Homo sapiens: one gene and its partner. The protein of the gene in region 1 purifies or fractionates together with the protein of each later gene. This does not show direct contact. Each region holds a gene or a part of one and is shown in the gene's direction. Other genes may lie near its edges.

What was found. The genes of interacting proteins can lie anywhere in the genome.
Region 2: the proteins of PRR12 (region 1) and BMP2K purify together in Homo sapiens (affinity purification with mass spectrometry, with the first as the bait; one large-scale study listed by BioGRID). This does not show direct contact.

What each region holds. Positions count from the first base shown.
Region 1 is NC_000019.10:49,622,024-49,624,752, forward strand, and holds part of PRR12 (proline-rich protein 12), read left to right. Parts: intron 1-2,729.
Region 2 is NC_000004.12:78,780,026-78,782,849, forward strand, and holds part of BMP2K (BMP-2-inducible protein kinase), read left to right. Parts: exon of another isoform or gene 1-1,869; intron 1,870-2,824. UniProt on the Homo sapiens protein: May be involved in osteoblast differentiation.

The sequences.
Region 1 (2,729 bases):
GATGGAATATCAGGGCTCTGAAATCCAGTGTTAAACTGGCTCTGAGGATTCTGGTTGGGATGTTAGTGTGGCACTGAGAATTCCGGGATAGAATGTTAGGGTAACTGAGACTTCTGGAATCGAATGTTATTCTGGCTTTGAGAATTCTGGAAGACTTGCAGTGATTCTGAGAATTCTGGGATGGATTCTAGGCTGGTACTAAGAATTCTGGGATAGGCTATTAGGCTGGTGCTGAGATGGCTGGTGGGAAGTTAGTCTTAGAAAATACGCAGGAAGGCCGGGCACAGTGGCTCACGCCTGTGATCCTAGCACTTTGGGAAGCCAAGGCCGGTAGATGGCCTGAGGTCAAGAGTTCGAGACCACCCTGGCTCTCTCAAAATAAAAAAAAGTGAAACCCCGTCTCTACTCAAAATAAAAAATTAGCTGGGCGTGGTGGTGGGCACCTGTAGTCTTAGCTTCCCTGGAGGCTGAGGCAGGAGAATCAGTTGAACCCAGGAGGTGGAGCTTGCAGTGAGCCAAGATGGTACCACTGCACTCCAGCCTGGGCGACAGAGCAAGACTGTCTCCAAAAAAGAAAAAAAAAACAGGCCAGGCGCGGTGGCTCACGCCTGTAATCCCAGCAGTTTGGGAGGCCAAGACGGATGGATCACGAGGTCAGGAGATCGAGACCATCCTGACTAACACAGTGAAACCCCGTCTCTACTGAAAATACAAAAAAATTAGCTGGGCGTGGTGGCGGGCGCCTGTAGTCCCAGCTACTCAGGAGGCTGAGGCAGGAGAAAGGCGTGAACCCGGGAGGCGGAGCTTGCAGTGAGGCGAGATCGTGCCACTGCACTCCAGCCTGGGCGACAGAGCGAGACTCTGTCTCAAAAAAAAAACAAAAACATATATATATATATATATATAGAGAGAGAGAGAGAGAGAGAGAGAGAGAAAGAGAGAGAGAGAGAGATATTAATATGACTGAGAATTTTGAGTGAGATAGTAGTTTTCTCAGAATGATGGGTGGGACGTTGGGATGACCGAGAATTCTGGAATGGATTCTTAGACTGGTGTGGAGAAATCTAAGCTGGAATGTTATGCTGACTCTGAAAATTCGTGGGTAGAGTGCTGGGTGGGTTGGAAAATTCTGGGTAGCATTAGGTTATAAAAACTCTGGAGGATATGAATCTAGTCTACAAATTCTGAGATGGATTGTTAGGCTGGCACTGAGGATTGTGGGTGAGATGTTACACTAGGGTAGATAATCCCAGTGTAGGATATTAGAGTAGGTCTGAGAAGTATGTGTTATTAGTCGGGAGTTAGAATTCTGGGATAGATGGCTGGGCGCGGAGGCTCATGTTGGTAATCCCAGCACTCTAGGAGGCTAAGGGAGGTGGATCACGAGGTCAGGAGACCAATAACAACCCATCCTGGCTAACATGGTGAAACCCCGTCTCTACTAAAAATACACAAAAAATTAGCCGGGTGTGGTGGTGGGTGCCTGTAGTCCCAGCTACTCGCGAGGCTGAGGCAGAATAATGGTGTGAACCCGGGAGGCGGAGCTTGCAGTGAGCCAAGGTCGCGCCACTGCACTCCAGCCTGGGCGACAGAGCGAGACTTTGTCTTAAAAAAAAAAAAAAAAGAATTCTGGGGTAGATGGGATGGTTAGGATAGGGCTGAGAATTCTGGGATAGATGGTTAGGATGGGGCCAATAATTCTGGGATAGATGGTTAGGATGGGGCCGAGAATTCTGGGGTAGGTGGTTAGGATGGGGCCGAGAATTCTGGGGTAGATGGTTAGGATGGGGCTGGGAATTCTGGGATAGCTGGTTAGGATGGGGCTGGGAATTCTGGGGTAGGTGGTTAGGATGGGGCTGGGAATTCTGGGATAGCTGGTTAGGATGGGGCTGGGAATTCTGGGGTAGGTGGTTAGGATGGGGCTGGGAATTCTGGGGTGGGTGGTTAGGATGGGGCCAGGAATTCTGGGGTGGGTGGTTAGGATGAGACCGAGAATTCTGGGGTAGGTGGTTAGGATGGGACTGAGAATTCTGAGGTAGGTGGTTAGGATGGGGCCAAGAATTCTGGGGTAGGTGGTTAGGATGGGACCGAGAATTCTGGGGTAGGTGGTTAGGATGGGACCGAGAATTCTGGGGTAGGTGGTTACGATGGGGCTGAGAATTCTGGGATAGGATAGGTGGTTAGGATGAGACTGAGAATTCTGGGGTAGGTGGTTAGGATGGGGCCGAGCATTCAGGGATAGGTGGTTAGGATGGGGCTGAGAATTCTGGGGTAGGTGGTTAGGATGGTGCTGAGAATTCTGGGGTAGGTGGTTAGGATGGTGCTGAGAATTCTGGGATAGGTGGTTAGGATGGGGCTGAGAATTCTGGGATAGATAGTTAGGATGGGGCTGAGAATTCTGGGGTAGGTGGTTAGGATGGTGCTGAAAATTTTGGGGTAGGTGGTTAGGATGGGGCTGGGAATTCTGGGGTAGGTGGTTAGGATGGGGCTGAGAATTCTGGGATAGATGGTTAGGATGGGGCTGGGAATTCTGGGATAGATGGTTAGGATGGGGCTGGGAATTCTGGGGTAGATGGTTAGGATGGGGCTGGGAATTCTGGGGTAGAATTTTGGGTGACATTGAGAATCTGAGCCAGGCCAGAAGGCACAGTGGAAGCATCACTGGTCAGGCCCAGCCTCCTCTGTCCTTTGAGGAGACTCTAGTTGTCTCTCCTGATCTGCAGCCTGGG
Region 2 (2,824 bases), on another chromosome or scaffold:
GTCAGGCTCATATAATTAATTCAATGTAACCTTCCAAGTTTTTACTAAAACCTGGGGTTGGCTTGTTGACCACATGCATCACCATAACAAGCCTTTGGTGCTAGTCTGAGGAATTTAATACTGATTGATAATAAGTTGGTTTTTGAGTAGGGGACATTGTTTTCCCTAAATGTCCTTGGTACAAAATGGACCTAAAATGGGGTGTTGAGACTGGGAGAGCAGAGATAACTTGTTGAGATAATGTAATCACGAGGTTATGGGGGCTGGGTAGGAATGATAGTGTGAATATGGTGATGTGGGTAAGATTTACTGAGATGGGTGTTGGGGGTTATTGGATTGTTAGTAATTGGAGGCCAGGAATTTACTACAGGGTTCTTTAAAAATAGCTCAGTATTTCTCTTAGAGTTAAATGCTTAGATAAGCTAAGTATTAGCCAGTTCTCGTTGTTAATTTTTCAGGAAGGTTGTACTATACATCTGATTTTGCACTATAAATTAGTAGGGAAATGATAGATTTAAGCATTATATCTCATTTGCAGAAAGCATCTGTGGCTGCCCAGTAACTTGTAAGTTCACATTCCGAAGAGAAGATAGAGAGGATAGAAAAAAGGGAAGGATCGAATAAAAATATCAACAACTGTTACTACTACACAACTTCATTAAATGCCTTTGGTGTGCTAAGCACTGCTAGGTGCTACTTAACATAGTAGAGGACAATAGTGGAGGTATTCTTCTGGCCTATGAAACTTACAGATTAGTGTGGAAGGTAAAAGCTAAACAAGCCAACAAAAATCACCAAGTTACTATAGTTAAAATTTTTTATATGTGTCGTGAAGACAATGCTCAGGGTTTTATGAGAGAATTCAGTTTAGACTGGGGGGTCAAGGAAGGCCTTTTTGATCTTTTAGCAGAAACCTGAAGGATGAAGAAAGTTAGGTAAAAACAGAGGTGTGAGGTTGGGGTGATTTGAAGTATGTCATGAAGACTGAAGTCTCTGTGTGAGGGAAGGAAGTTTCAGAAACTGAAATATGCTCAGAGCTGTGGACTACAATGAATGAATCACATGTAAGAGAGATCCAAGATGATGTTGGCAAGGTGACCAGGGTCCGGGGCTTAGTATACCATGCTGAGGAGTTTAGGTTTTATCTGAAATGCAACAGGAAGCTATTGAAGGGTTTGAATTGGGGCAGTGACATGCTCTGATTTGTATTTTTACAAGATCATGCTGATTGCTGTATAGAGAGGTATACAAATTATAAGGTTAAAATGATGACAGTGGGGATGAAGATGATAATGCTTAAATGGGAAGACCTTGTGGTGGTCATAGGAAGTGTTAGGAATTACTTGCTTATGTATCTCTCAGGTGAAAGTACCGTTTGGGAACATAAGGAAGGAACAGATTTTTTTTTTTTTTTTTGAGGTGTTTGGAGGACAGCCAGTAGTTCAGACATGTTTAGAGATGTGTTTGGATGAGATATCTGAGAGGAAATATCAAATGGGAAGCTGGGTATGTCGTCTGGAACTCAGCAAAGGTGTTTGGGCTTAGAGATGGTACTTCTGATTGATTAGTGAGCCCTGGCTGTTATTTAAAGCCCTGGGAGAGGATGGATGTAGGGAGAGTGTAGAATGAGAAGGTGCTCATTGAAGGACTCCTATAGTGCATTGGTCTCAGACATTAGTGTTCATTGTAAACATTCAGAGGATTTGGTAAAACAGAAGTGCTGAGCCTGGTCCCCAACTTTTGATTATGTCTGAGTGAGGCCCACTCTTTCAGTGATACAGATGCTGCCGGTTCAGGAACCACGTCTTGAGTACCGAGTACCACTGATTTCGAGCGGGCGAAGAAGACTAAGAAGAAGGTGCTAGAGAGGTATGAGGAATACCAGGACACTCTGATACCTGGAAACTTGAGAGTATTTCAAGAAGGGGAGGGAGTGAGCAGTTGTGTTGCTGCAAAGTCATCTTACTTGATCACATTTTTTCGCCTGGCATTCACAGTTATTCATGCTCACTTCTTATCTTTAAAAGCTTACCTGTAATTATTTGCTAGGTGAATACTCTTTGCGCCTGGTGCAATGTGCTCCACTCCCTGTTGGTCCGTGACTGAATCTTGTACTTGCCTAGCACTCTGCCTTTGTCTCTGTAATCCCTGTTTCCTAAGTACTGGTTATGATCACTTCCTCCTTTCTGTGGACACTTGTAACTATTTGCTTTTTTCCCTCTTGTCACATTTAACCTGTCTTGAGATGGAATTATGTAAGCACCTAGAAACACTAAGGTTGTTAACTACTGTTCCTCTGTCATCTCCACTACCAGATAGTAAAATTCTTAAGGCTAGACAGACTCTGTTTTAATTGATGTTGTATCACACAAGTTGGCCATACCATGAACATTCAGCTACTTCTCAAAGGAAATGGTGCTTGATTTTTTTATTTTTAATCAGATGATGATCTTCAGTAGAATTTAAGGCCTAATTTGCAAATTGAAGAGCACCAATGGAGGGCTCTTTACTGGACCATCAAAGGTTTTGTACTTAGGCCAGAGGACTCTGTGTTTTCTAGTTTGGTGAAGACAAACAACCGTTAAGGCAGTGTCATTTCACTTAACAACTTGAAACAGGAAAGAAAAAAAATAACCCAGATGCCCCCTTGTAGTTATCTTGCTTTATTGACATTGTATTTTTATTTATTCTACAAAGGTGGCTGAGTTTTTAAAAAAGTATGTTACATGCAATTGTGAAATTGTTTTACATTTTGTGGTTAATTTTGACAGCTTTTTTTGGATGCTGAGCTTTTTGGGGGTAGAACCAAGGTCTATTCACCTGT